2 linked regions of the Homo sapiens genome follow. The protein of the gene in region 1 interacts with the protein of each later gene in a pairwise test. Each region holds a gene or a part of one and is shown in the gene's direction. Other genes may lie near its edges.

Evidence for each region.
Region 2: the proteins of RRAS2 (region 1) and RGL3 interact in binary tests that used the Homo sapiens proteins (3 or more experiments, as listed by UniProt).

What each region holds. Positions count from the first base shown.
Region 1 is NC_000011.10:14,274,223-14,290,618, reverse strand, and holds the end of RRAS2 (ras-related protein R-Ras2), read left to right. Parts: intron 1-8,898; coding exon 8,899-9,017; intron 9,018-10,057; coding exon of another isoform or gene 10,058-10,195; intron 10,196-11,194; coding exon 11,195-11,282; 3' UTR 11,283-12,697; downstream 12,698-16,396. UniProt on the Homo sapiens protein: GTP-binding protein with GTPase activity, involved in the regulation of MAPK signaling pathway and thereby controlling multiple cellular processes. Regulates craniofacial development.
Region 2 is NC_000019.10:11,409,082-11,418,480, reverse strand, and holds part of RGL3 (ral guanine nucleotide dissociation stimulator-like 3), read left to right. Parts: intron 1-1,421; coding exon 1,422-1,645; intron 1,646-1,813; coding exon 1,814-1,867; intron 1,868-2,332; coding exon 2,333-2,544; intron 2,545-9,399.

The sequences.
Region 1 (16,396 bases):
TTTGTTGGTACTACTTTGTCTCCGTGTCTCTCTAAAGTGTCTTGGGCTCTGGATGTGCAAAGACAAACATGCCTTATCTCCCACCCTTAGGGGGCATGCTATTGAAATTGAGATACTATAGCATGAAATTGAGATGCTATAGTAGAGGTTTTTACCTTTTTTTTCCCCCCTGAAACGGGTCTTGCTTTGTCTCCCAGGCTGGAGTGCAATGGCACGATCTCCGCTCACTGCAACATCCACCTCCCGGGTTCAAGCGATTCTCCTGCCTCAGCCTCCTGAGTAGCTGGGCTTACAGGCATGGGCCACCATGCCCAGCTAATTTTTTATATTTTTAGTAGAGATAGGGTTTCACCATGTTGGCCAGGCTGGTCTCAAACTCCTGATCTTGTGATCTGCCGCCTTGGCCTCCCAAAGTGATGGGATTACAGGTGTGAGCCTCTGCGCCCAGCCGGTTTTTACCTTTTTAACATCTCTTCACAATTAAAGGTGTCCGTCTATAATGTCTTGACACACTTACGTTGTTCTACCAAGTCAACTTGGACAGGCCACGGGGATGCTGTAAAAGCTTCTTTCCGCCTGTTCAGAGATGTTTAGTTTTTTGTCATCTGTAGGTTCTGAGTAACCAGTCTGGCTTGCTCTCTGTTGCCGACACAGCTTGTTTTTTTCTACCTTTGTCTTAGACTTGATCATTTGTAGTTTCTTTACCTTCTAGCCTATTTTCTTGTAGATAATAAATGCCATTTCTCCTTGTTCTTTGAATTTGTGGGTCAGCACTGGCCATTTCTACCACTGGCTCCTGAGATTCTGAACCCCACCAGGGTTCAGGGATATCATCCAGAAGAGGCTTTGCTTGCTTGCTTATGGCCTCTGTATCTGTGGACTGGGTTGCTTCTTTCATCCTTCCATCCATTCATCCAGTATTTATTGAACACCTTTTCTAGGCAGTGATGATGCAGCAGTAGACAGAATAGTCACTGAGGTTTACGTGAGATAAAAAGATATCTGTAGAATTTGAGTGGTTGTTTAGTATTACCAGCCATCTGGTCCCTTAAGATATGCCAGTCATTTTGTTTATTCTGCTAAAGGTGTAGGAAGAAAACATAGGTAAATGATTTGCTTAACTTTGCTAAAATATGAAAGTAGGTAAATATAACAACACTTGAATCTGAAATTAAATAGCACAGTATGTTGGCTTAGACAGTGGAATTTCATGATATATCTGATTTCAAGTTCCTTGTCCTCAACTCAGCCCTGTCTAGAGATCAACTGTCTTTGCTTTTTTGTCTTTACCATCTTTCTCCTGGCTTACCTTGGTTGTTCCCTCTTTTTCCCCTCCTTTTAGTTGCTTAATTATTAATCGTTACTATTAATTTGAGAAAATAACTTATTATACTTAAAATAATAGATAGCTAAGTATATCAATCCAGACTCCCATCTGTCAGTACTTTTGACCAGTGTGCCCCCTACAGCCTCCTAGGAAAAAGAACCCCTCCTCAAATAGTAGAGGATCTTACCACATGTGGCGTTATCTGTGCCTTATGTGCGTCTAAAAGGGTTTAGATGGTGAATGTAGGTGTAGGTACTATGAGGGTTTCTCGGTTTTGACAGGTCAATTTTGTTCAGGCTTTATCGTTAGCATATAGAACAGAGGTATGCACTAAATAAGTATTTGTTGGGTGGATGAATCTGGGTGCCAGTGAGTTAAGACGTTGTATTAATGTGATGATTCTTTTTACATAATAGATGTTTGTGAAAACAAGTTTTGCTTCTGTAAACTTCATTAACTTGACATAACTCTGAGCACTGAAATGTAGTTTATTCTATTTGGAAATATGTAGTACTAGATGAGCTCATACATGTTATTGTGAACTGCTGCTGCTACCTGTGTTTTTGAACTGAGTCTTACTGGAAGCTTCCAAATGTAGTTCTGTGAATTTGTTGCATCAGATTTGCCCTGGTTATTTAAAACAAAACATGTCTGGGAAGTGCTAAAATCTACCAAATCAGAATATCCAGGAGATGAGGCTTAATATTATTTGGTATCTTTATGAAATTATCTGGGTTGAGGAACCTCTAGGAAGTACTTACTTTTGTAACTTTCAGTTTTCTTTTGATTTCTAACTTCCACAGTGCTATGGCTCTGTTCCGGTATGTTGTCCTTTTTGTCTTTTATTGTTTGCTTTGGTGATGGCAATGCTATTTCTACTTAGTTAAAAGTATGCTGTGTCAGCTCACAAGCATGTGGTTAGAGATTTCTTCACCAGAAATGTATGTATAAATTTGTTGGCTTTGTTTCCTGGAAGACAGTGATGTGAAACCATGCTTTAAAAACAAATAAATGGCTGGGCATGGTGGCAAACACCTGTGATCCCAGCACTTTGGGAGGCCAAGGCAGGCAGATCCCTTGAGCCCAGAAGTTCAAGACCAGCCTGGACAACGTGGCAGGACCCTGCCTCTACTAAAAATAAAAAAAAATTAGGCATGGTGGCACGTGCCTGTAGTCCCAACTACTCAAGAGGCTGATGTGGGAAGGTCACCTGAGACTGGGAGGTTGAGTCTTCAGTGAGCTGTGGCCATGCCACTGCACTCCAACCTGGGTGACAGAGTGAGACCCTGTCCCAAAACCAAACTAAACAAAACAAAAACAAGTGAAGCACATAACCCTAGCAGCAGGATTGTTTTATCATGTAGACCATGAATTAATTAACATTTCGTTTTTTTCTTCTTCTTTTTTTTTTTTTTTTTTTGAGACAGAGTCTTGCTCTGTCAACCAGGCTAGAGTACAGTGGCGCAATCTTGGCTCAGTGCAACCTCCACCTCCCGGGTTCAAGCAATTCTCCTGCCTCAGCCTCCCGAGTAGCTGGGATTACAGGCCCGTGCCATCACACCCGGCTACTTTTTGTATTTTTAGGAGAGATAGGGTTTCACCATGTTGGCCAGGCGTGTCTTGAGCTCCCGACCTTAGGTGATCCACCCACCTCGGCCTCCCAAAGTGTTTGGATTACAGGCATGAGCCACCATGCCTGGCCTAACTTTTTTTACCCTATATAAGGATAGGTGAGTTGCTATTCCTGTTTATGTGAATTACATTATGCATGATGGGTAGGACAAGGTATCTTTTTGAGGAATAATGGAGCAGGAAAGCTACTGGAAAAATTCTAATAAGTACGTGTATTTCCTTCCCCCAATCATATTTACCCCAACAAAGTAAGTAGTTTATTGAGATTTCTTTTACTTTTTGTGTATATATATATATTTTAACTTAAGGATGTACCTATTTGGTTAGTTGTACACCATTTACTTAACATGTGTTTACTTTTTTAGCTGCTAAGCATGCTTCTAAGCTTTGGATGTACAAAGACAAACCTGTCTTAACTTCCTAGCCTCAGAGGACATGATGACGTGGTGAAAGAATAAGAAAACACAACGAAAAATTTTACTGTGGTATTGTTAGAGACTTGTCAGTGGTAACCAGATGGTGTGATGGGAGCTCTGAGAAGGTGCTTCCAAAACAGCACCAACACTTAGGGGGAAGTTTCATTGCTCAGGGCTTGAAAGGTTAGTGAGGAAGAATTTGAGAGTGTAGAGTTGAGAGAGAAGGGATGACATCCCAGGAAGAAGAAACAGAATTTGTGACGGCATAGGGGTATTTTATATGAAGGAATTTCACATGTCAAATTTTCCTAAAACAGAAATTGTCCTGTCTAAAATTGGTGGTTCTGTGAAGCTTTCTGTGTTTACTCGGCTTCCTTCCTTATCGTTAATTGTTCGGGTAACTTGATCAGTTTATATTTCAAATGCATAGCCTTGTGGCACATACGTTATTTTGAAGAGAGACAAGGTAAATTTAAAAGTTAGATAAACTTAGATATACCAGTGCTATGTAGAACCTGCCCGTTATCCTGTTGGAATGCCACAGGGCACAAACAGTTATGAAGTAGTTGTTGGATATATGTATATTGGTGTACTAAACTAATGATACTGTATTGAGGCTGCTAAATTTTTGGAATAGAATATTAAACTGGGAGAACAAATTACCTAAAACGTTTAGAAGGAACAATACCTTGAGCTCAAACAGGGCTAGGAATAATTCATATTCTAATCAATCAAAGTAGAAAACCTTATATTTCTTGGAGTATTGGATAGTATAACTCAGAAGGGTTTTGTCCCAGTAGTGGGGCAAAATTAGCCACACTAAATGCTGTTCTGGTACCCTGTAACAAAACCTAGAGCATGACCTGAAAGGATAATGTATTTCCAAATAACTGCATCCTAGAAGAAAGCTCAGGAATGTGTTTAGGAATACAAAATATCTGATACCTGATACGTAAAAGTCCCAGCCTTCTACTCAGAAATTCCCATACATATAAAGAAGCAAGAAAATATGACCCACAATAAGGAAACAAATAATTAATAGGAGCAGATCCAGAAATGACAAAGATAATAGAATTAGTGGACAGAGACATTAAAACAGTTATTTTGACCGTTATTTTATGCAATCAAGAAAACATGTTAGAGACATGAAAGGTGTAAACAGATCCAAATCAAACTTTCAGAAGTAAAACTACAATGTCTGACATGAAAAATGCACTGGATGGGATTAACAGCAGAAGTCATTGCTGAAAATTTCCACATTTGATGAAAAATACACACATCCAAGAAGCTCAACAAACCCGGAGCACAAGAAATATGAAGAAAATTATAAGATACATTATAATGAAATCACTTAAAATCAGTGGTAAAGAAAAAAATCTGAAAAATAGCCAGACGGGGGGAAAAGAGCACATTACATATGGAAGAACAAAGATAAGGATGGCAGGAGTCATCATTGCATCTCATTGAACAGTGAAGCCAGAAGATAGTGGTGCAGAATCTTTTAAGTACTGATAGCAAAAACTATCAACTAGGATTCATTACCTACTAAAAATTTATTTCAGAAATGAAGATGAAATAAAGACTTTTCCCAGACATGTAAAAGCGAGATAATTCATCCGCAGCAGATCTGCATTACAAGAAATGTGAAAAGATGTCCTTAGGCAGAAGGGAAATGATACCAAATGGAAATCTGAAAATGAATACAGAGTACCAGAGATGGTAATTATGTGGATAAATATAAATTACTCTTACCATAACTGAATATTTAAAGCAAAAATAAACGCATTATGAAGTAAAAGTTAATAACAAAAAAGAGCAGGAGGGAGAAATATTGTTGTTAACTAGTTTGTTTTTTTCTTGAGAGACGGGTTCTCACTGTGTTACCCAGACTGGCCTTGAACTCTTGAGCTCAAGTGATCCTCTTGCCTCAGCCACCCAAGTAGCTGGGACTTTAGGCATACACCACTGCACCTGGCTCTGTTGTAAGATTCTTAAACCATACTTGAATTGGTATGGTATCATTTGAATTAGACTGTCATGAATTAAAAATGTATACCATAAATTCTGAAGCAGCCACTGAAATAACAGATATATAGTTAATTAACCAACAAAGGAGGTAAAATGCAATCATAAAAACAACTCAGCTAACCCAAAAGAAGGTAGAGAAAGAAGACAACTAGAACAAAGAATAGATAATATGGATAGGAAACTAATAGCAAGATGACTCAACTGTATCCATGAGCACATTAAATGTAAATTGCCCAAATGTCTCAATTAAAAGGCAGATGTGTTAGATTGAATAAAAAAACAAGATGCTACAAGAAATCTACTTTAAATGTGAAGACACAAAGGTTAAAGTAAAAGGATGGAGTAAGATATTTATATAGCTACTTTAATTATTTTCATGATTGCCTGGCTAGCAATAATGAAAATAATTAAAGTAGCTATATGAATATCAGATAAAGATTTCAGAGCCAAGACTATTACCAGAGATAAAGAAGAGTGTTATATAATGATAAAGAGATTAATTCCTCAAGAGGACATAACAGTCCCAAACATTCGTGATCTAATAGCTTCAAAAATCTTGAAGCAAGATGTTAAGAACTACAAGGAAAAATAGACAAATTCACACTTAAAATCAGAGACTTCAATACCCCTCTCGATAACTGATAGGAAGGTAGAAAGAAAATCAGTAAGGATACAGATGACTTGAACAACAATACTGAACACAACATATCCTAATTGACATTAAGTGTACCCTTTACCCAACAACAGTAGAATGCACCTTCTTTTGAAAGAAGAATGGATCATAAAGTAAGCCTCAATAAATTTAAAAGGATTTTAGTCAGATAGTGTGTAATTTCCTGACCACAGTAGAATTAACTTGGAAATTAATAACAGAGAGGTATCTAGGATATCTTCAAATATTGGGAAATTAACATATTCCAACTAACCCTTGGGTCAAGAAAATGAAAAGGGAAATTACAAAGTATCATGAACTGAATGAAAATTAGAACACAACATCAAAATTTATAGCATGCTACTAAAGAAGTATATATAGAGACATTTGTAGCACTAAATATTTGTATTAGAACAAAGGTCTCAATTCAATGACCTTTAGTTTCTTCCTTAAGAAATAAGAAGAAAAAGAGAAAATTAAAACCCATAGTAAGTAGAAGGGAAATAATAAGAGAATGAAGACCAATGAAATGGAAAATAGTAAAACCATAAAGGAAAGAAAAACTGGCAGAGTGTAGTGGCTTATGCCTGTAATGCCAACACTTTGGGAGGCTGAGGCAGGAGGATTGCTTGAGCCCAGCAGAGCAGTTCAAGACCATCCTGGGTAACATAGTGAGACCCCACCTCTACCAAAAAAAATAAAAAATAAAAACCCTAAACTGGCTTTTTGGAAGATCAGTCAAATTGACAAGACTCTTGCCGGAATGATCAGATAAAAAAGAGAAAAGACACAATATCAGGATTGAGAGCGGTATCTTCACTTTAGATCCTTCAGATGTTTGAAAGATAATAAATACTATAAACAACTTTATGCCAATAAATTCAGCAAGTTAAATGAAATGGACATATTACTTGAAAGGCACAAACTACCAAAATTCACTCAAGGGAAAAAAAAAGATAATATCAGTAGTACTTTATCTACAAAATAAATTGAGTTTGTTTTAAAAACGTACCTCAAAGAAAACTTCAAGCCCAGATAGATTTGCCGGTGAATTATACCACACATTTAAGGAAGAAATACTACTGATTCTGTACAAAGTGTTCCAGAACATTGAAGAGGAGAGAAAATTCTTTGCAACTTATGTGAAGCCAGCATAGCACTCAGAAACCCAAACCAGAGGAAAGCATAAGAAATCCACAGTCCAATATCTCTCATGAACACAGATATAAAGATTCTTAATAAAATATTAAATAGAATTTAACAATATATAAAAAGGGCAATATATCACTCAAGGAGAGTTTATTCCTGCAATGGGTTGTTGGTTTGATATTTGACAGTGAGTCAATATAATTCATCATATTAGCAGTCTAAAAAGGAGAAATCATATAATCATCTCAGTAAGATGCAGGAAAAAACATTTGGCAAATCCGCCATCCATTCCTGATAAACGCCTTATGCAAAGGGAGTAGTGGAGAACTTTGTTAACCTGAGAAAGGACATCTACAAAAAAATTCTCTAACTGACAGCACACTTAATGTTGAAAAACTAGCTTTGTTTCTAAGATCCAAAATAGGTCAAGAGTATTCCCGTCACCACTTATGTCATTGTACTGGAGGTTCTAGGTAGTGCACTAAGGCTGGAAAAGGAGATAAAAGATATCCACATCAAAAAGCAAGAAATAAAATTGTCTTTATTAGCAAATGACATGGTTATGTAGAAATGCCTGTGGAATTTACAAAAGAACTCCTAGATAAATGAGTTCAGAATGCTTCCAGAGTATGAGATATACAAAAATTATGATCCTATTTTTATAGTGTTAAAAACTATGTATCATTGAAAAATGACCAAAAGAACATGATTCTCTATGGTTGATAGGTTCTTAAATTTTCTTTGATTTTTTTTTTCCCCCCAATTTGGCTTTTCTAATTTTTCATCAGGTGTTTACTTTTGTAATAATAGCCATAAAAGGTATTGTTTTCAGAAATATAATTTTAAGCCCCACTATATAAATGTAAATGTAATAGAGTTTAATAATTTTTAGTAAACATCACTATTCAAATCCTTACATTTAAAACATGTAGGAACTTACATTCAGTTTATGTTTTCTTATTCTGACCTGCCATTTTATACATCAATCAGCTATGCCACCTTTCCTTGATCTCCAAAATATAAGGCATTGTGAGGGCCTGTGATTGCATTCATAATTCATTTCTCCCCACATATTGATGAGTGTCACCTGTGTACCAGGTTTTGGGGAATGCAATGATGAAGAGACCTTATGGCCTCTGAAACTTACACTTTTCTCCATCCTCACCTCTTGCCATTTTCTCTCTTTGCTTAATGTATTCCAGCTATGTGACGCTTCTTTTAGTTCTTGGAAAGCCCATTCACTCTCATGGCCTCACACATTCAGTTTTCTCTGGCAAGGATACTTCTTCACACCCCCACCCTCCACCCCTCAACTCCATACTCTGTTATCTTCTGGGCTTAAATGTCACTTCCTCAGGGAAGCTTTCGCTCATCTCCCTGACAGGGTTGTATACTTTAATAGCACCTTACACTTTCCCTTCCCAGAATGTATTACTGTTGTATTTAATACTTTTTGTGTGATCTGTATTTGGAAATATTGTTGTAGGCTAGTATTTCCATCACAGATATGTTCTTCTGCATTGTTCTGCAGAGGTGGGCTTTAGTTTATCTTGAGCTGTTAAGTCTGTTGTTTCACCTTATGATAAAACAACTTGGCCTCTTGGCTGAATTATTAGCACAATCTGTGGCCAGGATTAGATGGAACAAATCCAGTTGTTAATAATGTACCATAAACATAACTGTTGGAATTTCAGGTAACACAGGAAGAAGGACAACAGTTAGCACGGCAGCTTAAGGTAACATACATGGAGGCATCAGCAAAGATTAGGATGAATGTAGATCAAGCTTTCCATGAACTTGTCCGGGTTATCAGGTAAGCAAAACACATTCTAGATGTGTGTTTTAATAAATTACTATTAAATGTTTTTAGTAAGGATATTTTATATGGAAGTGATTCCTTTCTAGGGATTAATGCACATGGTGCATTACAATTTTTAAGTACATATTCTAGGCACTTCTAGAATATAAAATATAATTTAATTATGAAGTATAAAGTACACATAGGATTTTGATAAGAATAAATGCTGCTTCCAAAGGGGGTGATGGTGTGAAGATAGTGATGACAGCAGCTAACTTTTGCATGGTAGTCTCTGCCAGCTTCTGTGCTAAACGTTTTTACGTGTATTATTACATGTAATCCTCACCCTCGCCCAATAAACTAAATACTGTTTTATCCTCACTTTCAGAGGAGAAAATGGGGGTACAGAGAAAGAAGTTAAATAGCTTGTTCAAATTAAGACATATTAAATGGCAGAACTGGGGCTTTAATTCAAACCTCTGATTCCAGAGCCTGTGCTCCTACCTTTCTTTTTATCCAGCTCATCCCAGGCTAAGAGTAAACCAGGTAGTAGAGATTAAATAATCCTGTAAGGTGTGAAGTATAATGTCCCACACAACAGAGAATTTTTCTGTTAGATGCCATAGGGGGCCTTTTGGTTTAAAAAGTGTTAACGGGTTCCAGGAAGCTTAAGGTGTTGGGTGAGGTCTGATAGAATTACGAGGTACGTTTGTGGGTGAGAAAGATGAAGTTGCTTTAGTGAGTAGGATTTGATTTATTATTTTGGGTCTTGATGCCTGGCCCCTGTTTCATACTCTGCTCTGTAGATCTGGGATTCTCTGCTAGTTAGACAGTTTGATAGGAATGTGAAGTGGGCTGCTTTTTTTTTTTTTTTTTTTTTTTTTTTTTTTGGAAACAGAGTTTCTCTTTGTCACCCAGGCTGGAGTGCAGTGGTGTGATCTCGGCTCATTACAACCTCCGCCTCCTGGGTTCAAGCAATTCTCTGCCTCAGCCTCCTGAATAGCTGGGATTTACAGGCGCCTGCCACCACATCCAGCTAATCTTTGTATTTTTAGTAGAGATGGGGTTTCACCATATTGGCCAGGCTGGTCTCGAACTCCTGACCTCGTGTTCCACCCGCCTCAGCCTCCCAAAGTGCTGGGATTACAGCGTGAGCCACCGCACCTGGGCTGCGTATTTATTTTGTATCTAAGGTAAATTGACACCTGAGCGATGATCTTCTACTTATTAGCTCCTTGCCAAGGCATTGTCTTTCTGTGGAGGAAAAAAAAGTGAAGGTTATAGCTTTTTCTTTTTTAGTAGTTTGTTAAAAATCCCAGTCCCATTTTTTTTTAATGGTAAGAGTCTCGGTTTTATAAGATGAAAAAGAGATCTGGAGATGGATGGCGATGATGGTTGCACAACATCATGCATATACTTGATACCATCAAATTGTATACTTAAAAATGATTAAGATGGAAAATTTTATGTTATATGTATTTTACCCCCCTTTCCCATTCCAGTTCCATTTTAGTGTTAAGCAACTGATGAGGCAGTGCCTTCTTAAAATAATTATGACTGCCGTTTTGAAATGTTGTCCTTTGTTTTGGTTCTTAGGATCTCTCCTTACCCATCAGTAATTCAGGAATGAGGGGAGAAGTAGAGGAGGTTTTTTGTTTGTTTTGTTTTTAATGCCAGGAGCTATTAGATATATTCTAACATCACAAGATCTTTAATCCTCACAACAGCTGTGAAAGGTAGGTTTCCATTATTCCCCTCTAAAAAAACTGGGGCTCAGACTAGGTCAACTAACTTTGTCTAATACTGAATTTAAAAAATGGCAGAACACAGATAAGACCTGCATACCTCATAAGGTTAATTTTATATTGCACTCTAATGATGAATCTTTATTCTTAAGGATACCTTAGAGTCATGGAATTTCAAATTGGGATGGGAACTTAGAGATTACTGAGTCTAGTATCTCGTCTGATTCAGGACTCATCCATTAAAGCAGCTTCATAGCTCTGCTTGTGCTGGTGTTGACGCGTTTGTGCCCTTTTTTGGTGGGGGTAGGAAAGAGAGAAATTCCCTCGTTGAAGTTTAACACTGAAAAGCATACACACTTAAAAGTGAACTTGTACAAAAAATAACCTGTGTTTGTAATAGTAGATTACCAAGAAGGCAATTATATTTTAGAATTTTTTATCTTACAGGAAATTTCAAGAGCAGGAATGTCCTCCTTCACCAGAACCAACACGGAAAGAAAAAGACAAGAAAGGCTGCCATTGTGTCATTTTCTAGAATCCCTTCAGTTTTAGCTACCAACGGCCAGGAAAAGCCCTCATCTTCTCTTTCTCTCCTCAGTTTACATCTTGTTGGTACCTTTCTAGCCTTAGACAAATGATCACCATGTTAGCCTTAGACGAAGAAGCTGGCTAGTCCTTTCTGTGAAGCTAATACAATGGTCATTTCCAGACAAATTTAAAGGAAACACTAAGGCTGCTTCAAAGATTATCTGATTCCTTTAAAATATATGTCTATATACACAGACATGCTCTTTTTTTAAGTGCTTACATTTTAATAGAGATGAATCAGTTTTGGAATCTAAGCTGTTTGCCAAGCTGAAGCTACAGGTTGTGAAATAATTTTTAACTTTTGGAATCATACTGCCTACTGTTACTCTAAATAGAAATATAGGGTTTTTTTTAATGTGAATTTTTGCCTATCTTTAAACATTTCAATGTCAGCCTTTGTTAACCTTAAATACACTGAATTGAATCTACAAAAGTGAACCATCTCAGACCTTTACTGATACTACAACTTTTGTTTTCTGATGGCCAAAATACCAAATGCCTGTTGTATTTATGGATTAAAAACTGCTTATAAAACCCTGTGTTACTACTCCTACTCTTGGAGATGATAATATTCTATGTGGTCAAATATTTGGACTCATTTAGGACTTAGATATTTCAGTGTACTTGATTTTTTAATTTAACTCTTTTTCACAGCCACGCTAAGGGTAAAAAGGAATAATTTCCTTCTGTCTTCCTTTTCAAGTATTTCTGGGTAAGGGATTCAAAAAACTAAAACTGTTTTTGTTTGTAATATAAAATATGGAATTGATCTTTCCAGGGTCAGAGATGATTAATGTTTTTGCTATATACTTTTATACATTATTTTCTTATCAAACTAGTTAACAAGTATTTTTATATGTTTGTAAGCAGATATGCTTTCATAGCATACCTTGTGTATATGTAAAGATAAGTATTTAATTCTCACTGTTCACTTTTAACTGACAAAGAAAAACAAGTGGAAACTACAGAAACTGTGGTAGAACTTTTACTTGCTGGTCTGGTCTTGGTTGTACCCATCTTTGGCCAGTCACATAACTACTCAAGAAACCTTCCCAATAGAGTACAACAGGATGAGACTCTGAAATCACTTTCAGTATTCCCTGCTAGATATTGATTGTTATTTCAAGTATTAAGTGTAAGCTTTTAATGGATAATTAGTATAACTGTGGATGGCATCTGATTTTGTTTTTAATTCTGTGGATTGTGTTTAAGCAATTCAATAGTATGTTCCTGATTTTGAGATGCTAAGTGGTATTGCACAGTTGTCACTTTATCAAGTGTGTACAACAGTCCCATGAAGTTTATAGAGCATACCCTTGTATAGCTTCAGGTGCTAGAATTAAAATTGATCTGTTATCACAAGATGATGTTTGATTACTCATTGTGTTAATTAAGTGGTTTCTTAAGGGAACAAGTGTTAGTGAAACTTACTTTAGTAGCTCTGTTCCTTTTCTCCAGTGCCTTAGGGTTTGAATCTAGAAGTCAGCATTGGTCATTCAGCAGGTGGAGGGGATGTGAAACAGTTTGATGTTCTTTGACTTGTTGAATATTTACTTAAGTCCGTGTTTCTTAAACTTTTTCTATGAAGTGCTCCTGATATAGAAACCCAACTGTAGAGGAAGGTGAATACCTACACAGATACCCCATGAAGATGAAACTGAAAACAGCTAAAGCCACACACACATTTATTTGAAGACCAGTAAAAATAATATAATTGTCTGGGTGCAGTGGCGCACACCTGTAATCCCAGCACTTTGGGAGGCTGAGGCAGGTGGATCACCTGAGGTTAGGAGTTCGAGACTGCCTGACCAACATGATGAAACCCCATCTCTACTAAAAATACAAAAATTAGCTGGGTGTGGTGGCGGGTGCCTGTAATCCCAGCTATTTGGGAGGCTGAGGCAGGAGAATCACTTGAATTTGGGAGGCAGAGGTTGCAGTGAGCTGAGATCGTGCCAATGCACGCCAGCCTGGGTGACAGATTGAGACTGTGTCTCAAAAAAAAAAATTGTGTAATTATGCACTGTACTTGATAGTATAACTATGTTGATATGGAATTATCTTCCATGTCTTCTAGTACAATTACTGCCCAGGAAGATACCATGTTTATCCTGTGGCTTTTGTTACTGTAGCACTATCATGTATCCTTGGTAGTACTTTCAGTTGGCAAAGTTTATTTGTTTTAGTTAACTTCAGATAACGAGATTGCTTACATAATATCCAGATTTAATGAGAAACCCATCAACTTTTATTATCTCAGTTTACCTTTTTTCCTCTTTATGCTTTACTTTGTATTATTATTATTATTTTTTGAGACAGTCTCGCTCTGCTGCCCAGTCTGGAGTGCAGTGGCGTGATCTGCACTGCAACCTCCACCTCCATGGTTCAAGCAGTTCTCTGCCTCAGCCTCCCAAGTAGCTGAGATTACAGGTGCCTGCCACTATGCCTGGCTAATTTTTGTAGAGGTGGGGTTTCACCATCTTGGCCAGGCTGGTCTTGAACTCCTGACCTCGTGAGCCACCCACCTTGGCCTCCCAAAGTGCTAGGATTACAGGCGTGAGCCACCGTGCCTGGCTGGATTGTTTTTATTACTACATCTTCAAGTCCCATCTCCATCTCTCCCTCCCTTCCTCCCTCCCTGCTTGTTCCCTTCCCCTCCCTCTTCCTCTTCCCCTCCCTCTTCCCCTTCTTTAGTAGAGACAAGGTCTTGATCTGTTGCCCAGGTTGGCATGTAGTGGCGCCATCTTGGCTCACTGCAACCTGCCTCGGGCTCAAAGTCATCCTCCCCCTTAAGCCTCTTGAGTAGGTGGGGCTACAGAGGCACATTCTACCACACCTGGCTACTTTTTATACTTTGTGTAGAGATGAGGTCTTGCCCTGTTGCCTAAGCTGGTCTCAAACTCCTGGACTCAAGCTGTCTGCCCACCTCAGCCTCCCAAAGTGTTTGGATTACAGGCTTGAGGCACTACACCCGATCCCCATAACCATTTCTTTTGCTGCTGTTTAATCTGCTATGAATCCTATCCAGTGAATTTTCATTTTGGATTTTGTGGGTTTTTTTCCCCCTGGAAATTATGTTTGGGTATATATATATATATTTTGTTTTTCTCCTCATTATGTTCATGTATTCCTCTTAACCAGCCCCTCTCAACTGGTTTTGCAGAACATTGAGCCCTGAATTAACACACAACAGATACGGCATTAGGGCCCAATTTGCATCTGGAAAATTTGCATTGTACGTTTGCATCTAGAATGGCACAGCCATGTACCATCCTTGGGAAAATAAAGAAAATAGTTCCTCAAATAACTTTCTGTGGGGCTCAATTCTCTTACAGAACTGTGATTGAGAAAGACTGCTTTGAATATTTGAATGTAGTTATAATAGCTGTTTTGAGTCTTTGCTGATTCTATTGCTTGTATAATTTTTGGATTTGTTTCTACTGACTGATTTTTCTCTAGTTATAGGTCACATTTTTTTTGTTTTTTCACATGCCAAGTAAGTTTTGGTTGGATGAAGGACATTGTGTATTTTATGTTGTTGGGTATCTAGATTTTGTTGGCGTCTTTGTTGGGTTTCGTTCTGATAGTTAATTTACTGACTGCAGTTCAGTTTGATCCTTTCGAGATCTCTTTTAAAGCTAATACAGTCTCAAGTAGCCTTTTTCCCAGGCTAGTTTAGCTCCACTACTAAAGTATGACCCTTTTGGGGTCTGTCTGCTGAATGCCCTGAATTATCAATTTGGCTTGTGGGAACTCAAAGAATTCCCAGCCCCGTGTGAGCTCTAGGGAACAATTCTATTCACAGTTCCTGGGTCATTCTTTGCCCAACCTCCTGGAGTTTTCATCCTAGACATATGTATCTTAATAGTCAGCAAAGACTCATAAACTCTATGCATGTTTTTGGATCTCTTTTTATGTGTAGCTGTCTTCTCAGCACAACTTTGTCCTGTGACTTCTAGTTGTTTCAGACTTCCTGTTCTTTAATGTCTCCTTTCAGCCCAGGGAAACATTTGTGTTCTACATGGAATCCCCCATCCCCTCTACAGTCTGGAATGTGCCTCCAGGCAGATGGCCAGGGCAGTGTTGAGGCTTACCCAACTTCTTTCCCTTCCATCAGGATTGTAGTCCTTTGCTACCTGGTGTACAATGTCTGAATGTATTTAGTCTAGGGTTTTTGTTTTTGTTTTTGTTTTTGTTTTGAGACACAGTCTTGCTCTATTGCCCAAGCTGGAGTGCAGTGGTGCGATCTCAGCTCACTGCAACCTCCGCCTTCTGAGTTCAAGCAATTCTCCTGCCTCAGCCTCCCGAATAGCTGGGATTACAGGCATGTGCCACCACACCTGGCTAATTTTTGTATTTTTAGTAGAGATGGGCTTTCATCATGTTGGCCAGTCTGGTCTCGAACTCCTGACCTCAGGTGATCCGCCCCCCTCGGCCTCCCAAAGTGCTGGGATTACAGGCGTGAGCCACCACACCCGACTAGTCCAGTTTTTTTTCTTCCGAGACAAAGTCATGTTCTGTTGCCCAGGCTGGAGTGCAGTGGTGCGATCTTGGCTCACTGCAACCTCTGGCTTCCAAGTTCAAGCAATTCTCTTGCCTCAGCCTCCTGAGTAGCTGGGATTACAGGCTCGCACAACCATGCCCAGCTAATTTTTGTATTTTTAGTAGAAACGGGTTTTCACCATGTTGGCCAGGCTGGTTTCAAACTCCTGACCTCGTGATCCGCCTGCCTCAGCCTCCCAAAGTGCTGGGATTACAGGTATGAGCCACTGTGCCCGGCTTAGTCCAGTTTTTAAATTGTCTAAGATAGGAGGGTTAATCTGGTTCCTGTTACTCCATTGTGATTGGAAGTTGAAGTGTTTCCCATTTGCCTTGTAGCTTTTTAAATCTCTGACTTGAAACTTTTCTTAAAAAGAGTGGACAGTCTCATGGAATGAATAGTCCTTGTCTATGTGGCCATTTTTTCTCTATAATTGGGAGTTTGCAAATTTTTTCATAAAGGGCCAGATTGTAAGTGTCATCTTGGGCTTTGGCGGCTATATCTCTGTCCCAACTAGTCTA
Region 2 (9,399 bases), on another chromosome or scaffold:
GGGTGGGGCCAGGCGATGGCCGCGCAGTTCCCGAGAGGAGCCTAGGGACAACTTGGTAAGGACAGAACTGGACGGCAGAGTTGGGAAAGGCAGGTTTAGAGGGCCGGGGCTGGAAGGTGGAATGGGGTTGGTTTAGAAGTGGCTAGGTGAGGGCGGATGGGGCAGCCAGTGAAGCGCGACAGGAGGGCTGAGGGAAGCCCTGGGTGGAAAAGAGTGTGTGGGGCGGGGGCGGGGGGGTGGGGGGAGGGGACGGGAGGGGGAGGGGACGGGAGAGGGAGTAGGGGACAGGGCATGGGAGAGGGAGGGTTTCCAGGGCAAGTTGCAGGAGCTATTTGTGGATGGGGAGGAACAATAACTTCAAGCGGGCAGGGAGTGGGGCACACACCTATAATCCCTGCGCTTCGAGAGACCAAGGCAGAAGGCCAGGAATTGGAGACCAGCCTGGACAACACAGCAAGATTCTCTCTAATAAAAATAAAAATTAAAAAACTAGCTGTGCGTGATGATGCCCAGCAGTGGTCCCAGCTACTCAGGAGGCTGGGGCAGAGGGACCGCTTGAGTCTAGGACTTGGAGGCTGCAGTGAGCTATGATTGTGCCACTGCACCCCAGCCTGGGCAACAAAACAAGACCTGTTTCTAAAAAAAACAAACCAAAACAATAACTCCAAGAAGCCGGGAGACAGAGGAATCACATGAAAGAATGGTGCTACAGGCGGGGCGAGGTGGCTCACGCCTGTAATCCCAGCACTTTGGGAGGCCGAGGCAAGTGGATCATCAGGTCAGGAGTTCAAGACCAACCTGGCCAAGACGGTGAAACACCGTCTCTACTAAAAATACGAAAAAACTAGCTGGGCTTGGTGGCGGGTGCCTGTAATCCCAGATACTTGGGAGGCTGAGGCAGAGAATTGCTTGAACCCAGGAGGCGGAGGTTGCAGTGAGCCAAGATCACGCCACTGAACTCCAGCCTAGGTGACAGAGTGAGATTCTGTCTCAAAAAAAAAAAAAAAAAAGTGGTGCTAGGGGCTGGGCACGGTGGTTCACGCCTGTAATCCTAGCCCTTTGGGAGACTTTGGGAGGCCAAGGGGGGCAGATTACTTGAGGTCAGGAGTTCGAGACCAGTCTGACCAACATGGTGAAACCCTATCTCTACAAAAATACAAAAATTAGCTGGGCTTGGTGGTGTGCGCCTGTAGTTTCAGCTACTTGGAGGCTGAGGAAGGAGGATTGCTTGAACCCAGGAGGCAGAAGTTGAAGTGACCCAAGATCGTGCCACTGCACTCCAGCCTGGGCAACAGAGTGAGACTCTGTCTCAAAAAAAAAAACAAAAAAAAAAAGAGTGGTGCTAGTGATGAATGTGACTAGAGAAGGGGTGCTGTGAGGACCACTCCTGCTCTCTCATGGCCACCTCTCCCCTCCTGCAGGCTCCCAGCCCCATTGCCAATACCTTCCTCCACTATCGAACCAGCAAGGTGAGGGTGCTGAGGGCAGCGCGCCTGGAGCGGCTGGTGGGAGAGTTGGTGTTTGGAGACCGTGAGCAGGACCCCAGCTTCATGCCCGCCTTCCTGGCCACCTACCGGACCTTTGTACCCACTGCCTGCCTGCTGGGCTTTCTGCTGCCACCAATGCCACCGCCCCCACCTCCCGGGTCAGTAGCGAACCATAACCTCCGTATTCTCCACCCTAGAACCCCAACTGGGCACCCCCCTCCACCTCCTCAGGTGTGGAACCTGGAAACACCTCCCAGACCCAGAGCCCTCTTCCTAAGCCCCCTCTAGGTTCCCCCTTCTTCACCTGCTGGGGGGCCTCTTCCCAGGGTAGAGATCAAGAAGACAGCGGTACAAGATCTGAGCTTCAACAAGAACCTGAGGTGGGTCCTTCATCCAGATAGGGGAGTGCGGGGAGGGAAATCCAAGAGGTCAAAGGTTAGCAGTCGGACTGGGGTTTTGAAAATTGCAGGTTGGGTAATAAGAGACTGGGAGTCAGGTGGGGCGTGGTGGCTCATGCCTGTAATCCCAACACTTTGGGAGGCCGAGGCAGGTGGATCACTGGAGGTCAGGAGTTAGAGACCATCCTGGCCAATATGGCGAAACCCTGTCTCTACTAAAAATACAACAACAACAAAAAAAGGTAGCTGGGTGTGGTGGCGCATGCCTGTAGTCCCAGCTACTCGGGAGGCTGAGGTTGCAGTGAGTCAAGATCAGGCCATTGCACTGCAGCCTTGGTGACACAGTAAGACTCTATCTCAAAAAAAAAAAAAAAAAAAAGGTACCAGGAGTCATATTCTATGTCCCCCACTCTGGACCCAGCTCTGAGACCCTGCCTCTCTGGCCAGGGCTGTGGTGTCAGTGCTGGGCTCCTGGCTGCAGGACCACCCTCAGGATTTCCGAGACCACCCTGCCCATTCGGACCTGGGCAGTGTCCGAACCTTTCTGGGCTGGGCGGCCCCAGGGAGTGCTGAGGCTCAAAAAGCAGAGAAGCTTCTGGAAGATTTTTTGGAGGAGGCTGAGCGAGAGCAGGAAGAGGAGCCGCCTCAGGTGTGGACAGGTGAGGGGTTTTCAGATCCAGTCGTGTTCTGAGAAGGCCTTTCCTGTCTGCTTCTTCCCACACAGGCTTTCTCTCCCCTCTCAGAGCTACAAAACTTAAGCAAGATTTTAAACTCTAAGCCTCAATTTCTTCATCTTTACAATGGGGATAATAATTCTTTGTCAGCCGGGCGTGGTGGCTCACGCCTGTATCCCAGCAGTTTGGGAGGCCAAGGATGGTGTATCACCTGAGGTCAGGAGTTTGAGACCAGTCTGACAAACATGGAGAAACCCCATCCCTACTAAAAATACAAAATTAGCCGGGCGTGGTGGGGCATGTCTATAATCCCAGCTATTCGGGAGGCTGAGGCAGGAGAATCGTTTGAACCCGGGAGGCGGAGGTTGCGGTGAGTCGAGATCGTGCCATTGCACTCTCGCCTGGACAACCAGAGCGAAACTCCGTCTAAAAAAAAAAACAAATTCTTTGTCTGAAGTATTAGCATGTGTCTAATACTTTTCCCTCCTTGGTGCCGTTGGGTCAGGATGCTCTGTGTTTCTAGCTACAAACCATTGCCTTGATACTTGTCTTTATTTTCTTTTTTTTGAGTCAGGGTCTTGCTCCGTTGCTCAGGCTGGAGTGCAGTGTCTCCATCATGGCTCAGTGCAGGCTCAACATCCTGGACTCAGGTGATCCTCCCGCCTGGGTCTCCAAAACTGCTGGCATTACAGGCGCGAGCCACTATACCTAGCCTGTAAAATTTTTCTTATTTTTGAATTTCTTTTTAAATTTAATTTAATTTAATTTTATTTTTTTATCTATTTTTTTTTTTAGACAGAGTCTCGCACTGTTACCCAGGCTGGAGTGCAGTGGCACAATCTTGGCTCACTGCAACCTCCACCTCCTGGGCTCAAGCCATTCTCCTGTCTCAGCCTCCTGAGTAGCTGGGACCACAGGCGCATGTCACCACGCCCGGCTAATTTTTTTGTAAAGGTGAGGTTGTGCCATGTTGCCCAGGCTGGTCTCAAACTCCTGAACTCAAGTGATCTGCCTGCCTTGGCCTCCCAAAATGCTGGGATTACAGCCATAAGCCATTGTGCATGCGTAGCCTCCTTACTTGATTATTGGCTTTTGCTCATCTCATAGGCTGTGAGTGCATGAGAGGAGGACCTGTTGTTCTTGCTCCCAGCTCTGTCCCCAGGGGCAGGAACAACACAGATTAGTTTGCTGAATAATTGCATCCTGCTTAGGAAGTATCATCTTTCACCCATCTGTATTTGATCTGATCCACATCACAAAAGCATCTCTATCCCTAATCCCCATCGCTTAATCTCCAGATTATAGTGGCCACCTTCCTGTCCAATTTACAAAGTAGCAGCCACTTCTCTATCCCTGGTGACAAAGTCTCAGTTATTTATATATATATAAAGGTATATATATATATATATATATATATATATATATATATATGAAGGTGTATATATATATATATATATGAAGGTATATATATATATGTATATATATGAAGGTATATATATATAAAGGTATATATATATAAAGGTATATATATAAAGGTATATATATATATAAAGGTATATATAAAGGTATATATATATAAAGGTATATATATATATATGAAGGTATATATATATATGTATATATATGAAGGTATATATATATAAAGGTATATATATATAAAGGTATATATATAAAGGTATATATATATATAAAGGTATATATATATAAAGGTATATATATATATAAAGGTATATATATATAGGTGTATATATATATATATATATATATATATATATATATATATATATGATTTCTCCAGCTGATTCCAAGTCATTAGAGCTCCATAGTTCACTGTGGTATCCACTAGCCCCTGTCGCTATTTAAATTAATTAAAATTGGCTGGGCGCGGCGGCTCATGCCTATAATCCCAGCACTTTGGGAGGCCGACGGGGGCGGATCCCAAGGTTCGGAGATCGAGACCATCCTGGCTAACATGGTGAAACCCCGTCTCTACTAAAAATACAAAAAAATATTAGCCGGGCGTGGTGGCGAGCGCCTGTAGTCCCAGCTACTCGGGAGGCTGAGGCAGGAGAATGGCGCGAACCTGGGAGGCGGAGCTTGCAGTGAGCTGAGATCAAGCCACTGAACTCCAGCCTGGGTGACAGAGCGAGACTCTGCCTAAAAAAAAAAAACCAAAAAACAAAATTATAATAATAATTAATTAATTAATTAAAATTAAATAAAATTCAGGTCTTTTCTTTTTAGAGATGGGGTCTTGCCATGTTGCCCAGGCTGGTCTCGAACTCCTGGGCTTAAGCAATCCTCCAGCATCAACCTCTCAGAGTGCTGGGATTGTAAGTGTGAGCTACTGTGCCTGACCCTGCCCTTTTTTTTTTTTTTTTTTTTTTGAGACGGAGCCTCGCTCTGTCACCCAGGCTGGAGTGCAGTGGCGCCATCTCGGCACACTGCAACCTCCTCCTCCCAGGTTCAAAAGATTCTCCTGCCTTAGCCTCCCAAGTAGCTGGGATTATAGGCACCTGCCACCACACCCAGCTAATTTTGTATTTTTATTAGAGACAGCGTTTCACTATGTTGGTCAGTCTGGTCTTGAACTCCTGACCTCAGGTGATCCACCCACCTCGGTCTCCCAAAGTGCTGGGATTACAGGCGTGAGCTACCATGCCTGGCCCGCTTTTTTTTTTTTTTTTTTTCTTTTTCAAAATCCAGTCAAGCAAAGGCAAAAATTCAGGTCTTCAATCCCACTACCCACATTTTGAGTGCTCAGCCACCACACTGGACATAGCAGATAGATAATTTTTCCACCATTGCAGAGAATTATATGGAAAGTGCTGCCCTAGTTTCTTTGAGGTCAGAGGAGAAAATTAACATTTGTTTAAGACCTTCTATGTGCTAGGCCCTGGGACACACTTTATTTCATTTTATTTTATTTTATTTATTTTTACTTTTATTTTATTTTGAGACAGAGTCTCGCTCTGTCGCCTAGGCTGGAGTGCAATGGCGCGATCTTGGCTTACTGCAACCTCCACCTCCTGGGTTCAAGTGATTCTCCTGCCTCAGCCTCCTGAGTAGCTGGTACTACAGGCGCCCGCCACCAGGCCCAGCTAATTTTTTGTAGTTTTAGTAGAGACGGGGTTTCACCGTGCTAGCCAAGATGGTCTCGATCTCCTGATCTCGTGATCCGCTTGCCTCGGTCTCCCAAAGTGCTGGGATTACAGGCGTGAGCCACCGCACCCGACTATGAATTTTATTTTTAGATACAGGGTCTTGCTCTGTTGCCCAGGCTGGACTCGAACTCCTGGGCTCAAGTGAGCCTCCTACCTCAGCCTCCTGAGTAGCTAAGACTACACTTGCACCATGTAGTTTAGAAGAAAGTAGATGACCACCATGCTCATCTATTTTATTTTAACAACTTTATTTTGGGTTCACTTTTTGCTATGGAAAATTTCAGACATATACAAAAGTAGAGAGAATAGTATGAAGAACATTCAGACATCCATCACCTATCATCAACGATGATCAATTTCACAAAAAAATATTTTCAGGATGATTTTAAAACAAATCCCGGGCTTATGTCAATTCATACATAAATGTTTTGGGTACACATGTCTGACAACAGGCTTACTTTTTTTTTTTTTTTTTTTGAGACGGAGTTTCGCTCTTGTTGCCCAGGCTGGAGTGCAATGGCAGGATCTCAGCTCACCTCAACCTCTGCCTCCTGGGTTCAAGTGATTCTCCTGCCTCAGCCTCCCGAGTAGCTGGGATTACAGGCGTGCACCACCACACCCGGCTAATTTTCTATTTTTAGTAGAGAGGGGGGTTTCTCCATGTTTGTCAGGCTGGTCTCGAACTCCTGACCTCAGGTGATCCGCCCACCTTGGCCTCCCAAAGTGTTGGTATTACAGGCGTGAGCCATGGCGCCCGGCCCTTTTATTTTTATTTTTTAATAACCTTCATGTTCATACTTAAAAAAAAATCAGAAATATTTGATATAAAAAAAATCCAATCCAGGCCAGATGCAGAGGCTCCTGCTGGCGATCCCAGCATTTTGGGAGGCCAAGGCAGGTGGATGGCTTGAGCCCAGGAGATTGAGACTAGCCTGGGCAACATGTTGAAACTTTGTGTCTACAAATAATTAGCTGGGCATGGTGGTGACTGCCTATAGTCCCAGCTGCTTGGGAGGCTGAGGCAAGAGGATCATTTTAGCCTGGGATGGTCAAGGCTGCAGTGAGCCGTGATTATGCCACTGTACTCCAGCCTAGGTGACAGAGCGAGACCCTGCCTCAAAAACAGAAAAAATACCCAGTCTATATTCAAATATTCAAATCCCCTGTTTGTGCCTGAACCTTTTTTTGGACACTGGGTTTTCCTATTTTGCCTGGGCTGGGCTTGAACTCCTGACCCTCCCACCTCAGCCTCCTGAGTAGCTGGGACCACAGGTGCCCACCATGGCACCCAGCCCTAAATTTTCTTTTGACAGTTGTTTCTGGCCAGGTGTTGTGGCACATGCCTATAGTCCCAGCTACTTAGGATGCTGAGATGGGAGGATCTCTTGACTCCGGGAAATCAAAGCTGCCGTGAGCTGTGAGCATGCCCCTGCACTCCAGGCGATAGAGCTGGGGGAAGGAGGAATAGTTGTTTCTTCAAATTGAAATCCAAAGATCTACTCAAGGTATTTGGTTGTTTGCTTCTCTTTTTTTTTTTTTTTTTTTTTTTGAGATGGAGTCTCACTCTGTTGTCCAGGCTGGAGGGTAGTGGCGTGATCTTGGCTCACTGCAACCTCCGCCTCCTGGGTTCAAGCGATTCTCCTGGCTCAGCCTCCTGAGTAGCTGAGTTTACAGGTGCCCACCAACACGCCCAGCTAATTTTTGTATTTTTAGTAGTGAGGGGGTTTCACCATGTTGGCCAGGCTGGTCTTGAACTCCTAACCTTTAGTGATCTGCCCACATCGGCCTCCCGAAGTGTCGGGATTACAGACATGAGTCACCACGCCCTACCGGTCGTTTGTTCCTAAGTCTCTTTTATTCTGTAACAGATCCCCCTTGCCTCTTGTTTGAAGCCATTAGAGGGCAAAAAAAATGGGTCATTTTTCCTGAGGTATGTCTCACATTCTTTTCGACTTACCTCATGGTTTCATGCAGCATGTTTCTCTATCCCCATAATTGCTGTAAGATTTAAAGGTTTGATTAGATGTAGGGCATTTTTTTTTCCAGGGCCCACTTTTTTTTGGGGTGGGGGGAGGAGAGACAGTTTCTTGCTCTGTCACCCAGGCTGGAGTGCTATGGCATGATCACAGCTCACTGCAGCCTTGACCTCCTGGGCTCAAGAGATCCTCCCTCCTAAGCCTCTTGAGTAGGTGGGACAGCAGGTGTGCATCAGGATGCGCAACTTTAAAAATTTTTTTATGTAGACATGGGGTCTCACTACGCCGCCCAGGCTGGTCTCAAACTCCTGGTCTCAAGCAATCCTCCTACCTCAACCTCCAAAAGTGCTGGGACTATAGGTGTGCCCAGCCCAGTACCCACTTCTAAAAACTAATATTTTGCAATGCCACCTGTCCTAATTCAAGATGAAAGAGGTAATTACACAGATTTACAAAGATTATTTTAAAATAATAGTATTGGGGCAGGGTGCTATGGCTCATGCCTGTAATCCCAGCACGTTGGGAAGCCGAGGCAGGAGGATCACCTGAGGTCAGGAGTTCGAGACCAGTCCGGCCAACATGGTGAAACCCCATCTCTACTAAAAAAAATAAAAAATAAAATAAAATAAAATAAAAAATAAATAAATAATAAAAAAATATATATATATTTAAATTAGCTGGCTGGGCATAGTGGCACCTCCTGTAGTCCCAGTTGCTCAGGAGGCTGAGGCAGGAGAATTGCTTGAACCCTGGAGGCAGAGGTTGCAGTGAGCCGAGATCGAGCCACTGCACTCCAGCCTGGGCGACAGAGCAAGACTCCATCACAAAATAAAAAAATAAAATAAAATAATAGTATGATGCCATAACTAGTACAAAGGAGAAGGAAAGTGAGAGTAACTTACACAGCAATAAACCATGTTTTCAATGGGTAATGCTTGGGTATGCCCCACTAGGACACATGATGAGGTTGTCCCGTGTCTTTGCCTGTCCTAGCGTCACAGTAGAGTGTCACGGTGCTGTTGTACTGACAGCAACAAGCACCAACGAACGCACAGGAGGGCACTGGTGAGGCAAAGACAGCAACATAGGTTCTGGGGACATCATTTTCCAAACTTGTGAACAACATTTGCAATTTGCAAACAAAACAAAGCCCAGACTTTCGTGGTCCTTGCATTCTTGGAGCCAAAAAAATTTGTGTTTATGAACAAAATAGTCAGGTTCTAGGTGCATATTATTGCAAACATGTTTTTCTTTTCTTTTTGTTTTTGTTTGTTTGTTTGTTTTGTTTTGTTTTGTTTTTTGAGATGGAGTCTCGCTCTGTCGCCCAGGCTGGAGTGCAGTGGCATGATCTCGGCTTACTGCAAGCTCCGCCTCGCCGGTTCACGCCATTCTCCTGCCTCAGCCTCCTGGGTAGCTGGGACTACAGGCGCCCGCCACCACGCCTGGCTAATTTTTTCTATTTTTTAGTAGAGACGGGGTTTCACCATGTTAGCCAGGATGGTCTCGATCTCCTGACCTCGTGATCTACCCGCCTTGGCCTCCCAAAGTGCTGGGATTACAGGCGTGAGCCACTGCCCCCGGCCTTCTTTTCTTTTCTTTTTTTTTTTTTTTTGAGACAAAGTCTCTGTCACCCAGGCTAGAGTGCCGTGGCGTGGACCTGGCTCACTGCAACCTCCACCTTCTAGGTTGAGGTGATTCTC